Homo sapiens: one gene and its partners. The main gene of each other region encodes a partner of the protein of the gene in region 4 in a complex. Each region holds a gene or a part of one and is shown on either strand. Other genes may lie near its edges.

Region 1 (7,024 bases), on a different chromosome or scaffold from region 4:
CACCTGAGATCAGGAGTTCGAGACCCGCCTGGCCAACATGGCAAAACCCCGTCTCTACTAAACATACAAAAATTAGCTGGGCATGGTGGCACATGCCTGTAGTCCCAGCTACTCTGGAGGCTGAGGTGGGAGAGAATCACTTGAATCCTGGAGGTGGAGGTTCAATGAGCCGAGATTGTGTCACTGTACTCCAGCCTGGACAACAGAATGAGACTCTGTCTGAAAAAAAAAAAAAGTAATTTGAAAAACAAGGGCTTAAATTTGATTGATTTTCCAGTTAATTATATCATGAACTAGATGTTTGGGGGAATTGGGCTTAGTTAAAACTACTATTTTTTCCCCAGGGTTAGCCTGTACTATTTGCAAGCGCCTATTATATATAAATGATCAAAACTAACTTATACCAACTTATAAGGGAAAGCATACCGATGCCCATGTCACCACTTCAAAGTACTTGATGGTTTAATTAATGATAATTTATTCCTGAGTTAACATCCTTACCTATACTTGCAAAATGTACTTCATTTCATTTGTGGCTCTAGCGTTGACTTATTATAATAGGACTTCAAAATACCCGATCAGAAAATCATTGCATTATAATTAGAGCCGATAGGAACAAAGGACAAAAGGACATATTACCTTTTTTTTTTTTTTTGTGAGACGGAGTTTCGCTCTTTCACTCTTGTTACCCAGGCTGGAGAGCAGTGGTGCAATCTTGGCTCACTCCAACTTTCACCTCCCGGGTTCAAGCGATTCTCCTGCCTCAGCCTCCCATGTAGCTGGGATTACAGGCATGCGCCACCATGCCTGGCTAATTTTTGTATTTTTAGTAGAGACGGGTTTCACCATGTTGGCCAGGCTTGTCTCGAACTCCTGACCTCAGATGATCTGCCTGCCTCGGCCTCCCAGAAGGTGGGAGGTGGAAGTTGCAGTGAGCCGAGATCACACCACTGCACTCCAGCCTGGGCAATAGAGCAAGATTCTGTCTTAAAAAATTAAAATAGGCCAGCCGGGCGTGGTGGCTCACGCCGGTAATCCCAGCACTTTGGGAGGCCGAGGTGGGCGGATCACGAGGTCAGGAGATCGAGACCACGGTGAAACCCCGTCTCTACTAACAATACAAAAAAAATTAGCTGGGCACGGGCGCCTATAGTCGCAGCTACTTGGGAGGCTGAGGCAGGAGAATGGCGTGAACCCGGGAGGTGGAGCTTGCAGTGAGCAGAGATTGTGCCACTGCACTGCAGCCCGGGTGACAGAGCAAGGCTCTGTCTCAAAAAAAAAAAAAAAAAAAAAATAGGCCAGGTGAGGTGGCTCATGCCTGTAATCCTAGCACTTTGGGAGGCTGATGTGGGCAGATCACCTGAGGTCAGGAGTTCGAGACCAGCCTGGCCAACATGGTAAAACCCCGTCTCTACTAAAAATATAAAAATCAGCTGGACATAGTGGCGTGTGCTTATAATCCCGGCTACCTGGGAGGCTAAGGCAGGACAATCGCTGGAACCCGGGAGGCAGAGGCTGCAGTGAGCCGATATTGCGCCACTCCAGCCTGGGTGACAGAGTGAGACTCTGTCTCAAAAAAAAAAAAAAAAATTAGGCCGGGCGCGGTGGCTTATGCCTGTAATCCCAGCACTTTGGGAGGCCGAGGTGGGCGGATCACCTGAGGTTGGGAGTTCGAGACCAGCCTGACCAACATGGAGAAACCCCATCTCTACTAAAAATACAAAATTAGCTGGGCGTGGTGATGCATGCCTGTAATCACAGCTACTCGGGAGGCTGAGGCAGGAGAATCCTTTGAACCTGAGAGGCGGAGGTTGTGGTGAACTGAGATTGCCCCTTTGCACTCCAGCCTGGGTGACAAGAGTGAGACTCTGTCTCAAAAAATAAAATAAAATAAAATAAAATAAAATACAAAAATTAGCTGGATGTGGTGGCAGACGCCTGTAATCCCAGCTACTCAGGAGGCTGAGGCAGGAGAATCACTTGAACCCAGGAGGCAGAGGTTGCAGTGAGCCGAGATTGTGCCACTGCACTCCAGCCTGAGCGACAGAGCGAGACTCCATCTCCAAAAAAATAATAATAATAATTAAACAAAAAATAGGAATGGGGTCTCACTGCATTACCCAGGCTGGTCTTAAACTCCTATCAGCAAGTGATCCTCCTACATCTGCCTCCCGAAGTGCTGGGATTGTAGGCATGAACCATGACACCTGGCGAAGACATACTACTTTTGGTTGGGATTCTTTATGGAAAGCCCTAAAATATTTTGTAGGCACTATATCAGCAATGTTTACAGGCTGCACTGTGAAACAGGTGTGTTGGAGGCAGACAGACTTTGAAATTTCTGTGTATGGACTTAATTTAAGTCAGACAGGGAGGGTAAAGAGAGCAAAAATAAAAAAAAGAAAATCTTTTTTCTGGAGACGGAGTCTTGCTCTGTCGCCCAGGCTGGAGTGCAGTGGTGTGATCTCGGCTCACTGCAACCTCCGCCTCACGGGTTCAAGCACTTCTCCTACCTCAGCCTCCCGAGTAGCTGGGACTATAAGCGCGCGCCACAATGCCCGGCTATTTTTTGTATTTTTAGTAGAGACAGGGTTTCACCATATTGGTCAGGCTGGTCTTGAACTCCTGACCTCGTGATCCGCCTGCCTCGGCCTCCCAAAGTTCTAGGATTACAGGCGTGAGCCACTGTACCTGGCCTTTACACTGATTTTTAATGCTGAAAGGGACTTTAGAATTTGCCTGGTCTGGCCAGAGGCGGAGGTTGCAGTGAACCAAGATCGTGCCACTGCGCTCGAGCCTGGGTGACAGAGCAAAACTCTGTCTCAAAAAAGAGAAAAAGAAAAAAAGAATTTGCCTGGGCCAACTCCTAATTACAGATGTGGAAACTGACCAAAGATGGCATCCAGCCCTCTTGATTTGGGTTTTCCACAGTAACTCTCATCAGCCTCCTGCTGACCACTTGTTACCATTTTTTTCCAATCCACCATTCTTCTGTTAATCTCTGAAGTCATACAGAACACTTATATGGTGCCAGCACACATGGATATGTGTGTTGGGTTAGCAGCAGGATGAGTGAAATGAAACACTGGTATTTTTTGAGAGATGGGGTCTTGCTTTATTTTCCAGGCTGGAGCATGGTGGCTAGCCACAGGCCTATCACAATGTACTACAGCCTCGCACTCCTAGGCTCAAGCCATTCCGTCACCTCAGACCCCATAGTAGCTGGGATTATACATGTGCTCCACTGCATTGAGCAGTATGTTGATTTTTTTTTTTTCCCTGAGACAGGGTCTTGCTTTGTCACCCACGTTGGAGTGCAGTGGTGCCATCACATCTCACTACTGTATCAACCTCCTGGGCTCAAGTGATCCTCCCGCCTTAACCTCCCAAGTAGCTGGGACCACAGCTGCATGCCACCACGCCTGGCAAATTTTTTGATTTTTTTTTTTTTATTTGTAGTGACCAGATCTCACTATGTTGCCCAGGCTGGTCTCAAACTCCTAGGTTCAAGTGATCCTCCCGCTCAGCCTGCCAAACTGCTAGAATTATAGGTGTGAGCCACCAAGCCCACCCTGTACTTCATTATTAACTTAATTTTTTCAGATGAGAAAATTGAGGCATAAAGAGATTATGTAGCTTGCTCAATACAGCTGAAAAGTGGCACAGTTGGTACTTAAACCCAGATACTGCTACCATGGTTCATATCCTTGACCACTGTACTATACACTATACTACCTTTTGTTGTTGTTAGAGACAGGATCTTTTTGTGTTGCCCAGGCTGGTCTCCAACTCCTAACCTCAAACAGTCCTCCCATGTTGTCCTCCCAAAGTTCTGGGATTACAGACGTGGGGTCCCACATGTGGCCTATACTGCCTTTTTGATAAGTCAAAAGCAGCTGGAGCCTCAACTAACCAATCCTAATTGCACACTGGAAAAAAATCTTGCATTTCTATTGCTCTCGAGTCTCACAGACTGCAAATAATTGATCCTTTTTAGCTTATTTAGGCTGGGAAATATGAGCTCATTTAGATACATTTAGAAGCCAGAGAGGAAAGAAACAGCCAGGTAGAAAAACCAGTCATTAAGTGAAGTCATGCACCACAGTATAGGGCTTTTATGCCATCAGGCCAGTCCTCTTGATTCCAGTATTTTGCTTAAATAATAAATTACTAAACATTTCAGAGGTAAAAAAAGGTTTTGAAGGCTACCTTTTCTTCTGTTCCCCTTTCTCTTCACCTTTGTTTTGTTTTTTTAAAAAAAAAAAAACAGTTAATGGAATAGATGCACAGAGAATACCAGGGTCTTACAACTATTGCCAAGGTCTCCTTAATTCCTACCCTATGAAAAATTAGACCCTCTCAATACAATAATAGGGTTGCAGCTAGACTTCTGTTTGAAGTACAAGGTTGTTAAAGGGAAGCAATTAGGGCTTGTCATCCTCAGCCAGTCAACCACAGTTTAAAAGGAGGGAGGATAGGCCGGGTGCAGTGGCTCATGCCTGTAATCCCAGCACTTTGGGAGGCCGAGGTGGGCAGATCATGAGTTCAGGAGATTGAGACCATCCTGGCTAACACGGTGAAACCCCATGTCTACTAAAAATACAAAAAATTAGCCGGGTGTGGTGGCAGGCGCCTGTAGACCCAGCTACTCAGGAGGCTGAGACAGGAGAATGGTGTGAGCCCAGGAGGTGGAGCTGGCAGTGAGCCAAGATTGCGCCACTGCACTGTAGCCTGGGCGACACTGCACTGTAGCCTGGGCGACACAGTGAGACTCCATCTCAAAAAAAAAAAAAAAAAAAAAAAAAGGAGGGAGGATAGATGTGGTTTTTTTTATTTATTTATTTATTTATTTGAGACGGAGTCTTGCTCTGTCGCCCAGGCTGGAGTGCAGTGGCGCGATCTCGGCTCACTGCAAGCTCCACCTCCCGGGTTCGCGCTATTCTCCTGCTTCAGCCTCCGGAGTAGCTGGGACTACAGGCACCCGCCACCATGCCTGTCTAATTTTTTGTATTTTTTTTTTTAGTAGAGGTGAGGTTTCACCCTGTTAGCCAGGATGGTCTCGATCCTGACCTCGTGATCCGCCTGCCTCGGCCTCCCAAAGTGCTGGGATTACAGGCATGAGCCACCATGCCTGGCCTACTTATTTATTTTTTAGATGGAGTTTTGCTCTTGTTGCCCAGGCTGGAGTGCAATGGCGTGATCTCGGCTCACTGCAACCTCCACCTCCCGGGTTCAAACAATTCTCCTGCCTCAGCTTCCCGAGTAGCTGGGATTACAGGAATACCCCACCATGCCCGGCTAATTTTGTATTTTTAGTAGAAATGGGTTTTCTGCATGTTGGTCGGGCTGGTCTCAAACTTCCGACCTCAGGTGATCTGCCCACCTCGGCCTCCCAAAGTGTTGGGATTACAGGCGTGAGCCACTGCACCTTGCCTAGATGGGTTTATTTAAATTGAACTCTAACCCATACAATCGTGTTTTGATAGAATTACTAAATATTTTCAACAACCAATCACTGGGGGGTGGACTTTCCATATTTACTTTGTGACTCATAGCACACAATTTCTACATAGTAGGTAATAGTAAGGGTTAATTATTATTGTTCTCTCAAACTGTCCCACAGTTAATGCCTGTTTTTTGTGGGGTTTTTTTTTTTTTTTTTTTTTGAGATGGAGTCTCGCTCTGTCGCCCAAGCTGGAGTGCAGTGGTGTGATCTCGGCCTACTGCAACCCCTGCCTCCCGAGTTCAAGCTATTGTCCTGCCTCAGCCTCCTAAATAGCTGAGATTACAGGCAAGCGCCACCACGCCTGGCTAATTTTTTTGTATTTTTAGTAGAGACGGAGTTTCACCATGTTGGTCAGGATGGTCTCGAACTCCTGACCTTGTGATCCACCTGCTTCAGCCTCCCAAAGTGTGGAGATTACAGGCGTGAGCCACTGTGCCCGGCCAGTTAATGCCTGTTTTTGTTTTTGATTTTTATTTATTTTTTATTTATTTGTTTGAGACAGTCTCACTCTGTCATCCAGGCTGGGTTGCAGTGGCGCAATCTCGGCTAACTGCAACCTCCACCTCCTGGGTTCAAGTGATTCTCCTGCCTCAGCCTCCCGAATAGCTGGGATTACAGGCACGCGCCACCACACCTGGCTAATTTTTTTTTTTTTTTTTTTTTGAGATGGAGTTTCGCTTTCATTGCCCAGGCTGGAGTGCGATGGCACAATCTCGGCTCACCGGAACCTCCGCCTCCCGGATTCTAGCGATTCTCCTGCCTCAGCCTCCCGAATAGCTGGGATTACAGGCATGCACCACCATGCCCAGCTAATTTTTGTATTTTTAGTAGAGACGGGGTTTCACCATGTTGGTCAGGCTGGTTTAGAACTCCCAGCCTTAGATGATCTGCCCACCTCGGCCTCCCAAAGTGCTGGGATTACAGGTGTGAGCCAACATACCCGGCTAATTTTTGTATTTTTAGTAGAGACGGGGTTTCACCGTGTTAGCCAAACTGGTCTTGAACTCCTGACCTCAAGTGATCTGCCCGCCTCAGCCTCCCAAAGTGCTGGGATTACAGGCATGAGCCACTGCACCTGGCCCTGTTTTACTTTTTAAAATTTATTTTCGGTTGGATACAGTGTCTCATGCCTGTAATCCCAGCACTTTGGGAGGCTGAGGCGGGTGGATCACCTGAGGTCGGGAATTCAAGACCAGCCTGGCCAACATGACGAAATGCCATCTCTACTAAAAAATGCAAAAATTAGCCCAGCATGGTGGCACGTGCCTGTAATCCCAGCTACTCTGGAGGCTGAGGCAGTAGAATCGCTTGAACCCGGGAGGCAGAGGTTACAGTGAGCCAAGATTGGGCTCCTGTACTCTGGCCTGGGCAACAGAGTGAGATTCTGTCTCAAAAAAAAAAAAAAAAAAAAGTAGGCCGGGCTTGGAGGTGCATGCCCTGTAATCCCAGCACTTTGGGAGGCCGAGGCAGGTGGATCACCTGAGGTCAGGAGTTCGCGACCAGTCTAACATGGTGAAA
Region 2 (7,028 bases), on a different chromosome or scaffold from region 4:
ATTACAGACGTGAGCCACTGCACCCAGCTGTTCACCACCTTCTTACTTTGTTCAGGGCCTTAGTCCAAAGCCCAAGCCCCAACTCACTTGCTACTCTCCCTCAACACCTGTTGCAGGATCCATTATTACCTGTGGCTTACAGTCAAAGAAGCCTCTCTACTGCTGTAAAGGCAAGAGGAAAACTAATGGAGGTATGTTCTTCTGCCCTAAATTAAAACACTAATTACATTTGCTCACTTAAAAAGCAATTTATAGGCCGGGTGCAGTGGCTCACGCCTGTAATCCCAGCACTTTGGGAGGCCGAGGCAGGCGGATCACAAGGTCAGGAGATCGAGATCATCCTGGCTAACACAGTGAAACCCCGTCTCTACAAAAAATACAAAAAAAGCTCTCCCTCCCCCTCCCCCTCGTCTGCGTCTCCCGCTTTCCACCGTCTCCCTCTGTTGCCGAGGCTGGACTGTACTGCAGCGATCTGGGATCGTTGCAGCCTCCCTGCCTGACTACAGGCGTGCGCCGCCACGCCTGACTGGTTTTTGTATTTTTTGGTGGAGACGGGGTTTCGCCGTGTTGGCCGGGCTGGTCTCCGCTCCTGACCTCGAGTGATCTGCCCGCCTCGGCCTCCCGAGGTGCCGGGATTCCAGACGGAGTCTCGCTCACTCAGTGCTCAATGCTGCCCAGGCTGGAGTGCAGTGGCGTGATCTCGGCTCGCTACAACCTCCACCTCCCAGCTGCCTGCCTTGGCCTCCCAAAGTGCTGAGATTGCAGCCTCTGCCCGGCTGCCACCCCGTCTAGGAATTGAGGAGCGTCTCTGCCTGGCTGCCCATCCCCTGGGATGTGGGGAAGCACCTCTGCCCGGCCGCCCCGTCTGGGATGTGAGGAGCGCCTCTGCTCGGCCGCTACTCCGTCTGGGAGGTGAGGAGCACCGCTGCCCGGCCGCCACCCCGTCTGGGAGGTGAGGAGCGCCTCTGCCCGGCCACGACCCCGTCTGGGAACTGAGGAGCGCCTCCGCCAGGCCGCCCGCATCTGGGAAGTAAGGAGCCCCTCTGCCCTGCCGCCACCCTGTCTGGGAGGTGTACCCAACAGTTCATTGAGAACGGGCCATGATGACGATGGCGGTTTTGTCGAATAGAAAACGGGGAAATGTGGGGAAAAGAAAGAGAGATCAGATTGTTACTGTGTCTGTGTAGAAAGAAGTAGACATAGGAGACTCCATTTTGTTCTGTACTAAGAAAAATTCTTCTGCCTTGGGATGCTATTAATCTATAACCTTACCCCCAACCCCGTGCTCTCTGAAACATGTGCTGTGTCCCCTCAGGGTTAAATGGATTAAGGGCGGTGCAAGATGTGCTTTGTTAAACAGATGCTTGAAGGCAGCATGCTCGTTAAGAGTCATCACCACTCCCTAATCTCAAGTACCCAGGGACACAAAACACTGAGGAAGGCCGCAGGGTCCTCTGCCTAGGAAAACCAGAGACCCTTGTTCACATGTTTATCTGCTGACCTTCTCTCCACTATTGTCCTATGACCCCGCCAAATACCCCTCTCTGAGAAACACCCAAGAATGATCAATAAATACTAAAAAAATTAAAAAAATAAAATAAAGCAAAATAAAAACACACAAAAAAAATTAGGTGGGCGTGGTGGCCGGCGCCAGTAGTCCCAGCTACTCAGGAGGCTGAGGCAGGAGAATGGCATGAACCCGGGAGGCGGAGCTTGCAGTGAGCAGAGATTGCGCCACTGCACTCCAGCCTGGGCGACAGAGCGAGACTCCGTCTCAAAAAAAAAAAAAAAGCAATTTATACACACACACACAATTGGGGTTAGGATTGGTACTATCTGATTCAAAAGTTAAACAGAATTTGATAGGCTAGTCTGAGAATATTATCCCTACAGGGAAACATTCAAAGCAATAAAGCTACTTTGAAAGGACATGTCCAAAAGTTTTCATCATCTATAACAAAATCATTGTCAAATACTACTTACATTCTTTAGAAAAAAGTCTCTTTCTTTTACCCTGTCCACCTTCTGCACCTCCTCCAATTTCTTCATTTTCTTCCTCAAACTAGAAGTTAAAATGTATATATAGAAATGTCAAATAATTGCCTTGCATTTGATATTTTAATAATGACATTTTTTTTTCCTTTTCAACAGATAGGCCAGAAAGCCAAAGGAAGCAGCAAAAAAAAAAACCACGAAACCTTAGCATTGAAGGAGCCTATGTATCTAGTCCAACTTCCAACTCATGCAAAAATGGCTTCTACAATGTTCCTAACTAATAATCCTACTGCTTCTACTTGTAAGAGTTCCAATGACCATAAGTTTTATTTTTAAACAACTAAGGTGGCCTATTACTACTGTTACTGTTAAACAGTTGATACTGAATCAAAGTCTACCTTTGTAGACTTTGTAGTAAGCAAAACTAATATTTCCTATGCATTTGCTTATACAGTGCTAAAAACGTTCCTTAAGTAAGCCCGTAACCCTATTTTATAAAAAGAAAACTGATGTTCAAAGTTAAATAACTTGCTCAGAGAGAATGGAAATTTTGAAATCCAGGCTGTCTGACTTTCAATGCATTCTTTTCCCATTACTTCACAGTAAGTACAGTTTTGTTAACAATTGAACTGTTGGCTCATAGTGCGCGCTAATAGATGTTAGTTTTGATCTCTGATGATTCTGTACGTGTTTCAGTGTCTGGCAAATACAGACCAAAATCAAGGGGAAAGGGGTCACAAAACCTACTCTTCCTTCATGTCCTTCCCCACTTTCTAAAATGATCAATCCTTAGGGCGTGAAGTCCCCGAACTCTGTCCGCTGAATTCACTAAGGCAAGCAGACCCGATCCTGAACTCTGCCTCCGCTACTGAGCCCGAAGGAGTGAAGAAAAGACAGGTTTTGGACAGAGACGGTCACTCACCGTGGGGTCTTCTTCCTCATCTGCCATCCCACTAGCACGCCAACTCACAGCGTCCTGCCGGCTGGCTCCCAGCTGGTTACACTACTTCCGCCGCCTCACTTCCGGTGACGCGCGGGGCCGTAGCTGGGCCTAGCCCTCTGCGGCCTGCGGGAGGACGGTGGTGCTTTCCGGCCTAGCGGCGGAAATGCGACAGTCTCTAAGGGAGGAGGCCGGAGCGCCTCCCTGTAATCCCGAAGGAATTGAAAACTAACAAAGAAAAGGAAATCACGGGCTAGGTCGCGAGTATCTCGTTGTCACCCTGAATTTGCTACTGCGTATTGAATCACAGCTTCTTGTTTGGGGACTGCGAAGCTATGGATCATAGGAGGGCAAGCCAGCAGTCCTTTATCAGACAAATATGCTTTTAAATCATTTTAAAGATTTGTAGTTCCACTGTTTCTAAGCACTGTGTTAATTATTGGGGATACTGTGCTTCATCACAAATTTCCAAGAGATGGTGTCCCGAGACTAAGCATTTAAAATTTTGTGAAGGTTTTTTGATTTTTTTTTTTTTTTTTTTTGAGACGAAGTCTCACTCTGTCGCCCAGGCTGAAGTGTGCAGTGGCGCGATCCCGGCCCACTGCAACCTCTGCCTCCCGGGCTCAAGTGATTCTCCTTCCTCAGCCTCCCGAGTAGCTGGGATTACAGGCGTGCGCCACCATGCCCGGCCTTATTTTTGTTTTTTTGAGACACAACCTCACTGTCCCCCGGGATGGAGTGAAGTGGCGCAATCAGGGTTCACTGCAGCCTAGACCTGCTGGGCTCAAGCCATCCTCCCACCTCAGCCTCCAAGTAGCTGGGATTACAGGCGCACACCACCAATGCCCAGCTAATTTTTGTATTTTTAGTAGAGATGGGGTTTCCCCACATTGCCCAGGCTGGTCTGGAACTCATGGCCTCAAGCGATCTGCCCCGCTCTGCCTCCCAAAGTGCTGGGATTACAAGTGTGAGCCACCGTGTCCACCGGGGAAGGCTTTTGGTCAGAACAATGGCTGGCAAAACCACAGGCATCGGAAGGCCAGAGCTAGGGATATAATATAAATGTCCCTACAGTGTAACAGATGATGCTACATAAAGAAAATCCCGTAATACACACGATTTCTGAATGTCCTGCTGAACATTCGGTGAGTGAAAACTAATTATCTGAGAGTTGAACCTATCTTTGTTAATAAACACAAAGCGGCCGGGCGCAGTGGCTCACGCCTGTAATCCCAGCACTTTGGGAGGCCGAGGTGGGCGGATCACAAAGTCAGGAGATCAAGACCATCCTGGCCAACATGATGAAACCCCGTCTCTATTAAAAGTACAAAAATTAGCTGGGCGTAGTGGCGCACGCCTGTAATCCCAGCTACTCGGGAGGCTGAGGCAGGAGAATCGCTTGAACCCGGGAGGCAGAGGTTGCAGTGAGCCGGGATTGTGCCACTGCACTCCAGCCTGGTGACAGAGCGGGACTCCACCTCAAAAAATAAAAATTAAAAAAATAAACACAAAGCATTTTCCCACACTTTTAATGTACGTTGAAGTTTCTAGGAATGTTATTACCCCAAAATTGAATAGTAATTGTATTTTGTTTGGTCTGGAATTCATTAAGAGCTGTGTACCATTTCAAGAAATAACGTCACCAAAAGCAACATCACTTGTAATAATTTGAATAGTGAATAATGAAAAAATAACTTTGATTTGAGGAATGTGAGTTAAATTATTAGGCCCAAAGAGGCATTAAAATGAGAGGCAATCACATCCTGCTTGCCCCCTTTTGAGCTATGTATTTATGTCTTAAAACCGCTTGCTATTGCCACAAGTATTAGTTATAAATTAGCCTAATTATGCCCCATCAGACACCATATCGCACACCCTATAGCTTGATAATGTTTAGCCAATTACTAATCAATGTTATTTTTGTGAACCAATGAGAACTCCTTAAAGACAACTTTGTATCAGCCCACTCCCTGTCCTCATTCTTTTCCTTTAAAAATCCACTTGTACCTGCTGCTAATCTTAGAGTGTATATTCTAGGCAACTTTATGCTGCTGAGTTGTAATCCTCAAGTTTGGCCCAAATAAACTCTCTATTTATATTAATTTTGCCTCAGCTTCTTCCTTTTAGGTCGACAATACTCACCCAAATCAGTCTGCATTCAAAGCAATTCTACATATAGGTAGAAGCATCTGAAATCTTCATTATCCCCCCCTAGTGCCATCATACCTGAGTATTTATATATTGAAACAAATGTTACTATTTTTACTTTACTTTTATATTACCTTTATGCCTGACCTCCTGGCCACTGGATCACTGGATCCTGTTAGGATATTATGTTATTTTCAAAATTATGTGAGTAGGTAGATATATTAGTTATTTATTGCTGTAACAAATTACCCCAAAACTTAGTGGCTTAAAACAAATATCACACAGTTTCTGTGGGTCAGCAATGTGGGTGCAATTTAACTGGGTGCCTGTGGCTCAAGGTCCCTCCTGTTGCAGTCGGGATGTTGGCTGGGGCTGCAGTCATACCTCAAGTGTTGATGGAGGAGAATTTGCCAGAGTCACTCACAGGTTGCTGGAGGTTTCACTTCCTCCAGGTTGTTGGACTAAGGGCCTCAGTTCTTTAATGGATGTTGCCCAGAGGTCTCCCTCAGTTCCTTGCCATGTAATCCACTCCATAGGGCAGCTCACAATGTGCCAGTTGCCTTCCTCCAGAGGACACAAGTGGGAGAACCCAAAAGACAGAAATCACAGGTTTTTTGTTACCTAATTTTGGAAGTGACATCCTATAATTTCTGCCCTATTCTATTCACTAGAAGTAAGTAAAAAAGTGCAGCTAGGGCTGGGCGCAGTGGCTCACACCTGTAATCCCAGCACTTTGGGAGGCCGAGGTGGGCGGATCAGGAGGTCAGGAGTTTGAGACCAGCCTGGCCAACATGGTGAAACCCTGTCTCTACTAAAAATACAAAAATTAGCCGGGTGTGGTGATGCACACCTGTAATCCTAGCTACTCAGGAGGCTGAGACAGGAGAATTGCTTGAACCCGGGAGGCGGAGGTTGCAGTGAGCTGAGATGGTGCCACTGCACTCCAGCCTGGCCGACAAAGCAAGACTCCATCTCAGAAAAAAAAAAAAAAAGTGCAGCCCAAGTTCAAGGAGAGGGGATTACATAAGGGCAAGAATATTGCTGGGGAGATCACTGGGGGCTTTCTGAGAGGTCACCTACCACAGTAAATTATATTATTTTTGAATTTCACTACACAATAATGGAGACACTGTATTTGTTATTAATATTTAAAGGAGATTGTTGAGCCTGATAGGTTTGAGAACTGCTTTTAGGTAGTGATCCAGTGTCCAGGAGGTCAGGCATAAAACATTCATAGTGTCTGTTATCAGTGGAGTAGATAGGTAAAATATGCTGGATGCACAGCACGGAGTACAATGCAGCAATCAGAAGCAATAGATTTAGCAACATGGACAGAACTTGAAAACAGTGCTAAGTTAAAAAAGAAACAATAAAATCTATAATATAATACCATTTATAGAAATTAAAAATACTACTTATTTTAAAGGAAAATATAAAAAAGCGTAAACATTAAACACACTAGAAAGTTGCAGTGTAGGAGAAATGGGAATAAGGATAAAAGGAATAAATTGATAAATAAAAAGTGAAGGACTTTGGAAGGGCCAATTGTAATACTATGCCATGAGCTGCGGCATGTGAATAATTCAATCCTGTGAACCTGAGATCCAAAACACAAAGTGGGGGAAAAAAAATTGCAGTGTCAGTCCAGGCGTGGTGGCTCACGCCTATAATCCCTGCACTTTGGGAGGCCGAGGCGGGCGGATCACGAGGTCAGGAGATTGAGACCATCCTGGCTAACACAGTGAAACCCTGTCTCTACTAAAAAAAATACAAAAAATTAGCCGGGCGTGGTGTCGGGCGCCTGTAGTTCCACCTACTTGGGAGGCTGAGGCAGGAGAATGGCATGAACCCGGGAGGCGGAGCTTGCAGTGAGCCGAGATCGCGCCGCTGTACTCCAGCCTGGGCAACAGAGCAAGCCTCCGTCTCAAAAAAAAAAAAAATTGCA
Region 3 (7,024 bases), about 96 Mb from region 4:
GGTGTTTGTTTCTTCTAAAAGAAATGTTCTCAAGTTAAAGCAAGTATTAGAAGTTACCATTAATTCAAATAATGAACAAATAATGAACTTAAGAATTGCCTTAGGGTAACAATGTCTCCAAGCATTCAAGGGCAGATGTCTCTGTCGGTGTCACATTATATGTTAAATATGTTGGCATGTACTGAAAGCAGGTGCTAAATCTTTCAGACTGACTCTTCAACACTAGTACTGTAATATTTTTTTGCATGGTACAGGGAGTAAATGTAAAAGGGATAAGAGGAGAGATGGCTGTAGGCTATAGATTCTGGGGTAGGATTACTTCACAGAAAAGATAAGATTTGAGTTGAGCTGTGAAGTATGGTTGTATAAAGGTATAGAGTATTCCAGCTTAGAGAATCACATAAACTAAGCTGTCCAGGTGAGATTAAGCATAATAAAAGTACCAGTAAGGTGTTCAGCTCCCTATGCAGCTAGTTCATTCCAAGGGTGTCTGAGTAAAATGTTCAACAGAGTGAGATCAGGTTATGGAAGGACTTGAAAGCTAGACAAAAGAATTAAAACATGTAGTAGAAAACATTGCATACTCCTAAGTAGGGGAATAGTATGATTAAAGTGGTATTTTAAGAAAATTGTACTGACAGTGATGTGCATAAGAGATTGAAGTGGGCAGAACTTGAGACTATACTGAGATAGTGACAGTAAGAATAGAGAGAAAGGAAAAAAATCTGAAATCATGGTTAAAAAAAAAAAAAAAAGGTGGCCGAAGGGGACGGGGACAGGGTTAGAAACTACCAGGTTTTGGTTTGAGGCTGCAAAGCATATGGAGGAATTTAAGATTATTATATTTTTTAGACTGAGAGAGTAATAATAGCTTTAATAGGAATAGAAGAGATGAAATGCCTGTTTACATTCAGTAAGAAGAAGAGTATTCGTTTTATTTATTTTCTTTTTTTAATGCATCACAGAAGTAACCCATACTTATAGAAAAAAAAAATCAAAGACTGCAGAAGTATGTGGAGTTAGAAGTCAGTCTCCTGCTTCCACCACAGCCCTCGCCTCTACTGCAGCTTCCACCCCTCGAACTGTTAACCATTGGCTGAATATCCTTCCAGAGGTTTCTGTATGCATTACTACACATGCGTCCAATTCTAGCAATATTTGGATTCTTTTTCATTTTACAGTGTGATTTAATTTCAGACATACTGAGTTTGAAGTGATCAAATTTCAGGATTTCAGTTAAAAAGTCAGGATTTCAGTTAAATCCTTTAGGCTATTGAAAATCAGAAAATGGAATTTTCATAGACATTTTTAAAGATGTAGAGACCTTAAGCTCTGCTAAGAATAGGCATAAGAAAAACTTGCTTTTGTAAAGAAAAAAATCTCTATATCTAACTTTTTATCTCTGTTTTATGTGGTGTTTTCTAATTACATTTGAAAATTTATAGATAAATTATCTTTATGGCTAGGCATGTTGGTGGTGCACTGGTAGTCCCAGCTACTCAGAAGGTGAAGGTAGGAGGATGGCTTGAGCCTGGGAAGGTAAGGTTGCAGTGAGCCATGATTGCCCTTCTGCACTCCAGCCTGGGCAGCAGAGTGAGACCCTGTCTCAAAAAACGAACAAAAACCAAACTTTTATGATCTAAGCCTTCTTTGTAAATATTCTTAGATTTTAAAAATTGATTTAATGGTATAATTCATTCAATAGGTATTTATTGAGTGCCAGCTATGTGCCAGCCACTGTTTAAGATTCTGCAGATGCATCAGGGAACAACAGAGGAAATGTAACCAACATTGACTTTGTCAGCACAGCACACTACTTATTTGATGATTAAAAAAAAAAAAAAGGCCAGGCACATTGGCTCATGCCTGTTATCCCACCACTTTGGGAGGCAGAGGCAGGAGGATTGATTGAGGCCAGGAGTTCAAAACCAGCCTGAGCAACATAGCAAGAACTCATCTCTACAAAATTAAAAAAAAAAAAATTACCCAGGCATGGTGGCATGTGCTTATAGTCCCAGCTACTCAGGAGACTGAGAGGGGAAGATCGCTTGAGCCTAGAAGTTTGAGGCAGCAAGGAGCTGTGATCATACCACTGCACTTCAGCCTGGGCAACAAGCAAGATGCCATCTCTTTTTTTTTTTTTTTTCTGAGATGGAGTCTTGCTCTGTTGCCCAGGCTAGAGTGTAGTGGCACGATCTCGGCTCACTGCAACCTCCGCCTCCTGGGTTTGAGCAGTTCTCCTGCCTCAGTCCCCTGAGTAGCTGGGATTACAGGCCTGCGCCACCACGCCCGGCTAATTTTTGTATTTTTAGTAGAGACGGGGTTTCACCGTGTTGACCAGGTTGGTCTCGAACCCTTGACCTTGTGATCCGCCCACCTCGGCCTCTCAGTGCTGGGATTACAGGCGTGAGCCATCGCGCCCAGCTAAGATGCCATCTCTTAAAAAAAAAAAAAAAGACAAAACACTATTTTATTATTATTATTTTTGGGGCATTTTCTGTGTGTCAGGTGCTGTTCCAGATGCTTTTGATCATCTGTAAACTACTTTGAAATTTGTTCTATAATAGCTAATCATGAATGTGGTTTTTCTGTGGTGTTCTGGCTAGTTGTCTGATTATATTTAAACTTGACTTTAATAATCAGCTTAAACATGATTCTGTGATACTCTTTAAAATCTATTAAATTCTTTCCAATAACTAGGTTAAAATGTTTGATTCTGAGCTGCATATTTACTTACTACTTTTTCTTAATATTTAAAAATATATTCGTGGGATTTCTTCAAATAATTTGATTTGCTTTTCACTTTGTTTCAGATGGCCGAACAGACCCAATTTTGGATGATGTTGGTGAAGCTTTCCAGCTGATGGGGGTTAGTCTACATGAACTAGAAGACTATATTCACAACATTGAGCCTGTCACCTTCCCACACCAAATTCCGTCATTTCCTGTTAGCAAGAACAATGTACTTCAGTTTCCTCAACCTGGAAGTAAAGATGCAGAGGAAAGAAAAGAATACATTCCTGATTACCTGCCACCCATTGTGTCTTCTCAAGAAGGTTTGTGAGTGTTTCTTCTTCATATGTTAGTGATTATTTTAATGGATTTTTAATCCTCTTAGCTTTCCATGCTATGTCAACTTTATAAATTCTGGAAACACAATAGAAACATTTACTGTTACTTACAAATTATTCTAACCCTTAAACCAACAAACTTGCAACTGACATTACCAAGCCGAGTCACGGTGTAATCAAGGTCATGTCTGAAGCATTTATCTCCTTTGTAAAGTTCAAGTAGAGGAAAACAGTGAAGCCAAAGAGAAGCCTTTCAACAGCCCTATTATATGAGAATGGGATATTAGGTAAATTAGAAAACATTTGAAACAAAAAGAAAAATTGGGGTAGCTCTTTTCCTCCTCGCTTATTATTCAGGCCATGAGTTGAATGCCATGGCTTTATACTGGAAACAGTGAGTGAATCGTGAGTATTCAGTGACATTGTGTAGACTTCTGTTTTTTATCATGAGGAGCAATGTTTATTGTTTGATCATATAGAACTTTTGATTATAAAATGATAGCTAATCAGGTATAATGGTCAGTCCAATTGCAGAGTTCCCTTTTTTCCTGCATAATTTTAGATGTTGATCACTAAGTTCACTAAGATTCTAAGGAGATATTTAAGTAATTTCTGGTCTCTAACACAAGTACACGATATTTTTTCTTATAAGAGTTGGAAAAGTTGCAATAAGTTCTTTCATTTTGTAAAAAATTCTAAAACCTGTATACTTCAGGACAATGCAAATGATGCCAGCAATTACTTTTACTTATGATTTTCTATTGTAAAATATACATAACATAAATGGACCATTGTAAAGGTGTGCAGTTCTGTGGCATTAAGTATACATTGTTATTCAGCCATCATCCCCATCCTTCTCCAGAACTTTTGTTCCCTCCCAAATTGAAACACTGTTCCCATTAAACATAACTCCCCATTCTCCACCACTTCCAGCCCCTGGCAACCACCATTCCTTTTTTTGTCTCTCTGAATTTGTCTATTCTAGGTACCTTTTATAAATGGACTTGGACATTATTTGTCTTTTTATGACTGGCTTACTTCACTTAGTATGATGTCTTCAGGGTTCATTCATGTTGTAGCCTGTGTCGGGATTTCGTTGTGTGTTTCGTTGTGTGTTTAAGGCAGAATAATATATGTACATTCCACATTTGTTTATCCATTCACTCACTGATGGACATTTGGGTTGTTTCAACCTTTTGGCTCTTGTGATTAATGCCGCTATGAACATCGATGTGCAAATCTCTGTTCAAATTCTTGCTTTCAGGTGTTTTTTTTTGGGTCTGTACCTTGAAGTAGAATTGCTGGATCATATAGTAATTGTCTATTTAATTTTTGAGGAAGCACCACACTGTTTTCCACAGTGGCTGTACCATCTAAGCTTCCTATCAGCAGTGCCCAAGGGTTCCAATTTCTTGCAATTCATTTCTTAGAATCGGTTCTACTTTAATAGCATTTTGAAGTGTTACCTATTTGTCTCAGGAAGTATGTTTAAATTTGGCATAAGTTGTTGTACAGTCTGTGTGTCAGGGTTGCCTCATCTGAAAAACTGGACAGCTACTGGACCTAAGTGGTAGGGATTTGTTGTGAATTGGTGGCTCATCATTTAGGTGCTCTGGATCTTAGCTGCAGTGGGTTCTACTGAATGATACTAACACACCGACAGCCCAGAACCAAAACTAGGACTTTGATCATAATCTACACTTAACTATTTGGTCCTTCTTGTCTTATTTTTATAGCATGCAAATATTCCATAATAAAATTCTCTTAAAGTGCTATGGTTATCATATTTAAATACTAGCAAGGAAATGTAACTAAGATAACAGGTTTAGATTAGGTAGTGAAGAAGTATGAAAAACAATTTAGTGTTTTTTTTGTTTTGTTTTGTGTTGTTTTGATACTGACTTCTGGCTGAAATTACTATATTACTATAGATTTTTGGGTTTCTTTTCTGGGTTATTTGAAGCAAAAAAAGAAACTCATTTAGTTTTATGCAAACAATATAAATTATAAACATTTTAAAAGGAAAATAACAAATCTTGAGAACACTACTTTTCACTTTTTATCTAACACATGTGGATTAAGAAGGAAAAATATTGCTGATTTGTAATATATGCATATGGTTTATAAGGATGCAGTAAGTGGTAGGCAGTACAGTAAGATGCTTGTCAAAACGTTCTCCTCTTCATAAGAAAAGGATATAAAATGCAATTCTTTGGTTACCATTTAAAAATATAACCATACAAGACCATTTCTTGTCATTTACAATCTGAAATATTTTTTTTTCATGGGTACAGCATGTTAGAAAGTTCCTGGTATTCTGATTAGTGGTGCAAAGTGAGGTACAGAGGTGAACCCCTTTGATAATGATGCTGTTCACCATGCTCTTTATTTTCCTTTTATTTCCTTAAGAGCCACAGACAGGCCAGACTTTGGTCTTAAAATATTATTAGCAAGGTCCTTCCATGGGGTTCCCTCTTATCAGCCACTCAGCTTGGTTCATGTCAAAAAAGCCTGTGAAAGTCTCCCTCCACAGCAGCTGGAGCTGGCGAGTGTGCACACATAGAAGGCCTGAAGGGGCAGCAGGCTGTGAGAGGCACAGCGTGGACCTCACGGCATCACTGAGACATGACTCAGCGAGTCACTGAGTTTCTGGTCTTCCCAAGTCACTTTACCTTTCTGAACTTTATATTCATCTGTAAAATAAGTGTAATAACACCTACCACATTGGGGAAATGGAGAATCAAGTAATTTTTTTTTGTTAACACATTTATATAAAATTGGACAGTGTTTAACATATAAAATACATAACAGTGGGCCAGGTGTGATGGCTTATGCACTTTGGGAGGCTGAAGCTTGAGCCCAGGAGTTTGATACCAGCCTGGGCAACGTCATGAGACCTCATCTCTACTAAAAATAAAAAACTTGGCTGGGCGCAGTGGCTCACGCCTGTAATCCCAGCACTTTGGGAGGCGGAGACGGGCGGATCACGAGGTCAGGAGATCGAGACCATCCTGGCTAACACAGTGAAACCCCGTCTCTACTAAAGATACAAATATTAGCTGGGCGTGGTGGCGGGTGCCTGTAGTCCCAGCTACTCGGGAGGCTGAGGCAGGAGAATGGCGTGAACAGAGGAGGTGGAGCTTGCAGTGAGCCGAGATTGTGCCACTGTACTCCAGCCTGGGTGACGGAGCGAGACTCTGTCTCAAAAAAAAAAAAAAAAACAAAAACAAAAACTTAGCTGGGCATGGTGGTGCACGCTTGTAGTCCCAGCTATCAGAGTCTGTGGTGGGAGGATCAGTTGAGCCCAGGGGTCAAGGCTGCAGTGAGCTATGATCACACCACAGCACTCCAGCCTGAGTGACAGCGAGACCCTGTCTCAAAAAAAAATAAAACACATGACAGCGAATATTAGTTCTCGTCCCCTTTTTCTTTTCTTGCTCTTAAATAATTTACTTTTGAATTGAAATACAATATACATTAGTGAAGTCACGCTATAAGGGGAATCGGTGTCAAGCTGCATTCAGTGGCACACCCATAGTCCTAGCTACTTGGAAGGCCAAGGCAGGAAGATCGCTTGAGCCCAGGAGTTTGAGGCTGTAGTGCGCAATGATTGAGCCTGTGAATGCCCACTGCACTTCAGCCTGGGCAACATAGCAGGACCCTGTCTCTGAAAAAAAGAGACGAATCAATGTAAAGTAGTGTTACCATCACGTGCTGAGGATCTGAGGGAACAGACTTACTAGCTGGGCTGGATAGGTACTTGACTGAGGAGCTGTGTGATTATCCGCAGTGTGAAGATGACAGATGAGGAGATGATGTGGAAGGAGTTATTGCCTGCTTTATCTGATTATATGTTTAGAAGTGAGACCTCTTTGAAAATATTTTATACATGCATATTTTTGCTTGGACTGTTACAGTTCTGATGGCTGGTACCCAGTGTGTTTTATCCAAGA
Region 4 (7,898 bases):
AAGTGCTGGGACTACAGGCGTGAGCCACCGAGCCCGGCCTTCAATCACATCTGCACACATTTCTATTTACGGATTACAATGAGGTATGAATACAATGCTATGTATGAATACTTCATTTCTGGCAATGCTGCAAAAATTAGGCCTCATACAGACTAATTTGGCTAAAAGCTCTGCACTGGGTAATTCAATAAACATTTATTGTTAGCTCAGGATCACCTTTGATACCTTATACGGTATATGAGTTTTACTGCATGGATTTGTGACAACAGTTGCTGGGAGAAAGGAGGGGCTCAGGTTTCAGGTACATACACAGAGGCATAAACTTATCCATACCAAACATTTTACATATAGATATTATAAGTGCCTCAAGTGGCCGGGCACGGTGGCTCACGCCTGTAATCCCAGCACTTTGGGAGACCAAGGCGGGTGGATCACAAGGTCAGGAGATCGAGACCATCCTGGCTACCACGGTGAAACCCCGTCTCTAATAAAAATACAAAAAAAATTAGCCAGGCATGGTGGCACGTGCCTGTGGTCCCACCTACTCGGGAGGCTGAGGCAGGAGAATCGCTTGAACCTGGGAGGCGGAGGTTGCAGTGAGCCAAGATCACACCACTGCACTCCAGCCTGGCCGACAGAGCGAGACTCAGTCAAAAAAAAAAAAAAAAAAAAGCCTCATAACCACTCATTTAATAGAGAGAGAAAATTCAACATGAGAATGACCTGCCTCCTGACAATATTAATGTAAAAAAAAAATTTTTTTTTTGAGACAGAGTCTCGTTCTATCACCCAGGTTGGAGTGCAGTGGCGCAATCTTGGCTCACTGCAACCTCAGCCTCCCGGGGTCAAGTGATTCTCCTGCCTCAGCCCCCCAAGTAGCTGGGATTACAGGCATGCGCCACCACGCCCGGCTAATTTTTGTATTTCTAGTAGAAAGGGGGTTTCGCCATGTCGGCCAGCCTGGTCTCAAACTCCTGACCTCAGGTGATCCACCCGCCTCAGCCTCCCAAAGTGCTGAGATTCACAGGCATGAGCCACGACGCCCGGCCAATACGAAGGTAAAAAAAATTAAAAACTAAAAAAATAATGACAATCAGCATCACACAAGTAAATGCAGCAAAGACAAAAAGGTCTGTCCAATGCCCATGCCTAAACACATGGCTCTCAAGCTGCCATATGTCAATACTCCTTAGAAGCACTTATTCAAAAGTGAAGATTCCCAGATTCCACCTCTAGAGGACCTGATTCACTAAGTCTGAAGTGATGCCCAGGAACCTGCATCCTCCAAAGACTTAACACTGGTGGTACTCAGCCCATATATATTTTTAAAATTTCAGCCGGGTGCGGTGGCTCATGCCTGTAATCCCAGCACTTTGGGACGCAGAGGTGGGTGCATCACGAGGTCAGGAATTCAAGACCAGCCTGACCAATATGGCGAAACCCCATCTCTACTAAAAATATATTTTTAAAAATTAGCCGGGCGTGGTGGCGCGTGCCAGTAGTCCCACCTATTCGGGAGGCTGAGGCAGGAGAATCGCTTAAATCTGGGAGGCAGAGGTTGCAGTGAGCTAAGATCACGCCACTGTACTCCAGCCTGGGCGACAGAGCAAGACTCCGTCTCAAAAAAAGAAAAAAAGAAAAAGAAAAAAAATTCAACTTTTAGCTGAGATTCAGGGGGTACATGATGTGCAGGACTGTTACAAGGGTATATTGTATGGCGGCCGGGCGCGGTGTCTCACGCCTGTAATCCCAGCACTGTAGGAGGCCGAGGCAGGTGGATCATCTGAGGTCAGGATTTCGAGACCAGCCTGACCAACATGGTGAAAGCCCGCCTCTACTAAAAATACAAAAATTAGCCGGCCGTGGCAGTAGGAGCCTGTAGTCCCACCTACGCGGGAGGCTGAGGCAGGAGAATTGCTTGAACCCGGGAGGCGGAGGTTGCAGTGAGCCAAGATTGCGCCACTGCACTCCAACCTGGGCAACAGAGCAAGTTTCCGTCTCAAAAAAAAAAAAAATCTATAAAGTATTTATCAACACATCTTTTAAGAGGAACTAAAGAAATAAAGAGAAAATAAAGTACTTACAGTACTTAAAGTACGCTAGTACGAAACTGTACAAACACTGTTAGTGTCATGCGGACCTGCCCAAGGCTCAAAAGCCCAAATGAAAGGAAAGGGACCAAGAGCGTGAAGATCCCGCCTCTCCGCGCTCACCTTCCCCATACATCCCTCTGCTCAACAGCTCTCCTCAGCTTCTCACTGGAACTGACAGCTCGGAAGGGGGTTTGACTGCGCAGCCCGCGCACTAGAGAAAGGGGCGGGCATGTGGCCCTAGAGGCGGGCCCAGGAAATTCAAAACAAGCCCGCAGAGGTGCAGGCCTGCCAGCCCCTGCCTTACCGGCTTGCTCCCCTTCGCGGCGGCCGTACCTACCCGGGACCCCACGGCTCACCTTTACCCGGAGCCGCAGGACCTGAGGCTGAACCTGAGACGACCGTGGCCCCCGAAGCGCCAGTGCCCGGAGGGTCGGGGGCCGCAGGGCCAGGGGCCGAGGCGGTCACCCGGCTGAGAAGCGCGCTGGTCACCTCAGCGCCGGCGCTGTCCACCTCTCCCGGGGCTCCGGAGCCCGCCACTGCCTCCTCCAGCAGCCCGGCCTCACGGCGCAGCGCCTCTTCGGCCTCGCGGAGTTTGCTCTGCCGTAGGAACTGCAGCACGGCCAGTAGAGTCTGTCGGTCATGCGGAGCGCCGGCGTCCGGAGCAGCGGCGGGCACCGGGGCCGCCCCCGCCGGGGCAGCGGCGGAGACAGCCACCGTGGGCTTGGGGGTCCCGCCATCCCCGCCAGTGGACGACGACGCCGCAACGTTCCCGCCGCCGCCGTTGGGGCCGTTGTTGGTAGTGCCGCCGCTACCCTCGCCTGCGCCGTCCCCCGCCTGCGGAGGTAGCAGCGTTGGCGGTCCCTCAGGCTCTAGCTTGACCGCCACCTCCGTCTGCTCCTCCGCCAGCGCCGCCATCTTGCGGCTGAGCCACCTCGCGCCGTCAAGCGTGATTGCATTTTCGCCACATGGAGGGCGGGGAGGAGCATTTCACGACAACTCTAGTAGGCCATTTACGGCAGTAGGAGGAGCGAAAAGGAAGGAGAAACGGAATAGGAAAGAGAGCAACTTTCAAAACCGAGCGAAAGAAAGGCAGGAAGTGGGCATTGGTGACCACCTATTACATTTGCCTGAGAATAATTGCCATTTATTGCAGGCCAGCTATATTTAGGCATTATGATAGATGTTTTACATTATGTGATCTCCTTCAATTCAATAATCTTTTTCTTTTTTCTTTTTTTTTTTTTTGAGACGGAGTTTCGCTCTTGTCGCCCAGGCTGTTAAGCGATTCTCCTGCCTCAGCCTCCCCAGTAGCTAGGATTACAGGCATGCGCCACCACGCCCTGCTACAATTAAATAATCTTATGAGGTAATATTATCCCCACCTCGCAGATGGCTCAGTTGAAACCAAGAGAGGTTAAATAACTTACCAGAGGCAAGAAGAAAGTCCAAATGTCAACATTCGAATCCACGTATTTAACTCAAAAACATATACCATTTGCCAGAGGGAGGCTTCCGAGATACTGGTAGTTTTACATTTTGACCTGAATAGTGCTTACTTTTTTTTTTTTTTTGTCATTTTTACTTTTGTAAAAGTTAATCGAGCTGCATGCATTACATTACATTTATTTATTTATTTAACTTTTGAGACGGAGTGTCGCTCTGTCGCCCAGGCTGGAGTGCAGTGGCCCGATCTCAGCTCACTGCAATCTCTGCCTCCTGGGTTCAAGCGATTCTCCTGCCTGAGCCTCCCGAGTAGCTGGGATTACAGACGTGTGCCACCACGCCCGGCTAATTTTTGTATTTTCAGTAGAGACAGGGTTTCGCCATGTTGGCGAGGCTGGTCTCCAACTCCTGACCTCAGGTGATCCACCGGCCTCAGCCTCCCAAAGTGCTGGGATTACAGGCGTGAACCACTGCGCCTGGCCCGTATACATTACATTTCAATAAAAAGTTTTTAACGCCAGGTGCGGTGGCTCACGCCTGTAACCCCAGCACTTTGGGAGGCCGAGGCGGGCGGATCATGAGATCAGGAATTAGAGACCAGCCTGACCAACACGGCAAAACCCCGCCTCTACTAAAAATACAAAAAATTAGCCAGGCATGGTGGTGCGCCCCTGTAATCCCAGCTACTCGGGAGGCTGAGACAGAAGAAGAGCTTGAACCCGGGAGACGGAGGTTGCAGTGAGCCGAGATCCCGCCACTGCACTCCAGCCTGCGCGACAGTACGAGACTCCGTCTCAAAAAAAAAGTTTTTAAATACCAGAATGTTGTGGTTGTGAAATATGTACGTTATGTATTCATGCTATTATCCGTTATTACAAATAAACCATTTTAATTGTATATTTAAAAATCATGGCCACACGCAGTGGCACATACCTGTAGTCCCAGCACTTTGGGAGGCCGAGGCGGGTGGATCACCCGAGGTCAGGAGTTCGAGACCAGCCTAGCTAACATGATGAAACGCCATCTCTACTAAAAATATAAAAATTTAGCCAGGTGTGGTGGCGGGCACCTGTAATCCCAGCTACTCGGGAGGCTGAAACAGAGGAATCACCTGAACCCAGGAGGCGGAGGTTGCAGTGAGCCGAGATCGCACCATTGCACTTCAGCCTGGGCAGCAAGAACAAAACTCCGTCTCAGGAAAAAAAAAAAAAAAAAAAAAAATCATATATGCCATTTTGCAATGTGCTTCATAGGTTATAAAACCCTCCTGCATATTTTATCTCATTGGAAACTTGTAACTCTGTGGAATAGGTACAGACGAGAAAAGTGAGCCTGAGACATTGGGAAAATCTAGCACAGCCGTTCAAGTTATTGGTTTTGAGGTCTTACCAGCGTCCTTTGACCCTGCTTACTTTTAAAAAATATTTTATTTTATTAATTAGAGATCTGAAGCCTTACTATATTGCCTAGGCTGGCCTTGAACTCCTGGGCTCAAGCAGTCTCTCACCTCAGCCTCCCAAGTAGCTGAGACTACAGGCACAGACCACCTGGCTTGACCTTGCTTACTGGCTGAATAACCTGGAGCAAGTTACTTAATTTACTATGTCCCAGTTGCCTAATTTTTTTTTTTTTTTTTTGAAACGGAGTTTCACTCTTGTTGCCCAGGCTGGAGTGCAATGGCGCCATGTCGGCTCACTGCAACCTCCACCACTCAGGTTTAAGCAATTATTCTGCCTCAGCCTCCCGAGTAGCTGGGATTACAGGCATGTGCCACATCAGGCCCAGCTAATTTTGTATTTTTAGTAGAGACAGGGTTTCTCCATGTTGGTTAGGCTGGTCTCGATCTCCCGAACTTAGGTGGTCCACCTGCCTCGGCCTCCCACAGTGCTGGGATTACAGGCGTGAGCCACCACGCCTGGCCCCAGTTGCCCAATTTCTAACAAAAAAATAATAGTAGTTACGTCATAGTGTTTTGAGAATTAAATGAGGTAATGCATATGCAATACCTAGTATGTAATAAATAACCATTGGTTATTTCTACTTCACTTTAAAAGGTGTTCTGTAAATGTTTGATTAAGAAAGTGCAAGCATAATGTTCAAAAGTGATCCCGAGACTGAAATGCAAAGCTAATCTAGGGATAGGGGTGGCGGCTCATGCCTGTAATCCCAGCACTTTAGGAGCTGAGATGAAGGTTGCAGTGAGCCGAGATTGTGCCATTGCACTCCAGCCTGGGCCACAGAGCGAGACTCCAGCTCAAAAAAATAAATAAATAAATAAATAAAATAAAATACTGAGTGTGACCCATTAAATTGATCTTAACTGAATTAATTTTTTTTCTTTTTTTTTTTTTCTTTTTTTTTGAGACGGAGTCTCACTCTGTCGCCCAGGCTGGAGTGCAGTGGCCGGATCTCAGCTCACTGCAAGCTCCACCTCCTGGATTTAGGCCATTCTCCTGCCTCAGCCTCCCGAGTAGCTGAGACTACAGGCGCCCACCACCATGCCTGGCTAATTTTTTGTATTTTCAGTAGAGATAGGGTTTCACCGTGTTAGCCAGGATGGTCTCGATCTCCTGACCTCGTGATCCGCCCGCCTCGGCCTCCCAAAGTGCTGGGATTACTGGCGTGAGCCACCGCGCCCGGCCTGAATTAATTTTTTTTCAATCTCAGCTCACTGCAAATTCCACCTCCCAGGTTCAAGTGATTCTCATGCCTCAGCCTCCCGAGTAGCTGGGATTACAGGTGTGCACTACCATGCCCAACTAATTTTTATATTTTTAGTAGAGATGCGGTTTTGTCATGTTGGCCAGGCTGGTCTCAACCTCCTGACCTTAAGTGATCTTCCCGCCTCAGCCTCCCAAACTCCTGGGATTACAGGAATGAGCCACCGCACCTGGTTAACCCTGTGTTTAAAAAATAATAATAGTAATAATTCTATAACCCCTCACACTTTCTTTTTCTTTTTTTTTTTTTTGAGACGGAGTCTTGCTCTGTCGCCCAGGCTGGAGTGCAGTGGTGTGATCTCGGCTCACTGCAACCTCCGCCTCCCAGGTTCAAGCAATTCTCCTGCCTCAGCTTCCCAAGTAGCTGGGACTACAGTCGTGCACCATCATACCTAGCTAATTTTTGTATTTTTAGTAGAGACAGGGTTTCACCATGCTAGCCAGGCTGGTCTCAAACTCCTGACCTCGTGATCCACCTGCCTCGGCCTCCAAAAGTGCTGGGATTACAGGCGTGAGCCACTGCGCCCGGCATAACCCCTCACACTTTCACACACTAGTTTTAGCATCCATTGCTGAATTTTTTTTTTTTGCGTCAGTTATTAATACCATGGTTACCAATTGGTGCTTTTCTAATTTCATCATTTCTCCTACACTTATTAGTTGGTTTTCTAATGGAAGGAAGAAATTTTCCATCTCTTGGTTGGGCACAGTGGCTCACGCCTGTAATCCCTGTACTTTGGGAGGCTGAGGCCGGGGTGGGGGTCACTTGATGTCAGGAGTTTGAGAATAGCCTGGCTAACATGGTGAAACCCCATCGCTACTAAAAAAAAAAAAAAAAAAAAGCCTGGCATGGTGGCTCACGCCAGTAATCCCAGCTACTTGGGAGGCTGAGAGGAGAATCATTTGAACCCAAGAGGCGAGGTTGCAGTGAGCCGCCATCATGCCACTGCACTCCAGCCTGGGTGACAGAGGAGACTCTGTCTCAAAAAAAATAATAATTTTCTGTCTCCCTATTTATTTATTCACACAGTTACTATCAACATTTTTATTTTGATATTGTCACAAATTTGATCATTAGGATCTCCTTCAAACTGGCTCCTGTATTTCTTTGACATGGCCACATAATTGTTTGAGCACTTCCTTCTTAATTTCTAGCACAATGAGACATTCTACACTCCCTTTATATTGTCCCAGGCTAGAGTACAGTGGCACATTCATGGCTCACAGCAGCCTCGACCTCCCTGGGCTCAGGTGATCCTCCCACCTCAGCCTCCCAGGTAGCTGAGACCACAGGCATGTGCCACCATGCCTGGCTAACTTTTGTGTTTTTTGTAGAGATGGGGTTTTGACACGTTGCCCAAGCTGGTCTCAAACTCCTGAGCTCAAGTGATCCACCTACCTTGGCCTCCCAAAGTGCTGGGAATACAGGCATGAGCCACCGTGCCTGGCAAGTTCCTTTTATTGGTATTAGAAACCAAGACCAGAGTGTGAGGTATGTAATTGCTTCTAGGCCCTCTCAGCAGATAGTGCTGAGAAATGTACATACATCTACATGTACATATCTATCTATATCCATTTATCTTTATCCTTAAGTTCACCTTAAATGTCTCCAATTCTAATCTAGTAAAGCAGAATTTATTCT

The links.
Region 1: TAF5 (region 4) and TAF12 share a complex: the UniProt entries of both Homo sapiens proteins name them as parts of the TFIID basal transcription factor complex.
Region 2: TAF5 (region 4) and TAF13 share a complex: the UniProt entries of both Homo sapiens proteins name them as parts of the TFIID basal transcription factor complex.
Region 3: TAF5 (region 4) and TAF3 share a complex: the UniProt entries of both Homo sapiens proteins name them as parts of the TFIID basal transcription factor complex.

Annotation. Positions count from the first base shown.
Region 1 is NC_000001.11:28,633,058-28,640,081, reverse strand, and holds part of TAF12 (transcription initiation factor TFIID subunit 12), read left to right. Parts: intron 1-7,024. UniProt on the Homo sapiens protein: The TFIID basal transcription factor complex plays a major role in the initiation of RNA polymerase II (Pol II)-dependent transcription.
Region 2 is NC_000001.11:109,073,004-109,080,031, forward strand, and holds the start of TAF13 (transcription initiation factor TFIID subunit 13), read right to left. Parts: upstream 3,001-7,028; 5' UTR 2,945-3,000; coding exon 2,918-2,944; intron 2,063-2,917; coding exon 1,984-2,062; intron 1-1,983. UniProt on the Homo sapiens protein: The TFIID basal transcription factor complex plays a major role in the initiation of RNA polymerase II (Pol II)-dependent transcription.
Region 3 is NC_000010.11:7,821,505-7,828,528, forward strand, and holds part of TAF3 (transcription initiation factor TFIID subunit 3), read left to right. Parts: intron 1-2,813; coding exon 2,814-3,056; intron 3,057-7,024. UniProt on the Homo sapiens protein: The TFIID basal transcription factor complex plays a major role in the initiation of RNA polymerase II (Pol II)-dependent transcription.
Region 4 is NC_000010.11:103,363,100-103,370,997, reverse strand, and holds the start of TAF5 (transcription initiation factor TFIID subunit 5), read right to left. Parts: upstream 3,023-7,898; 5' UTR 3,009-3,022; coding exon 2,450-3,008; intron 1-2,449. UniProt on the Homo sapiens protein: The TFIID basal transcription factor complex plays a major role in the initiation of RNA polymerase II (Pol II)-dependent transcription.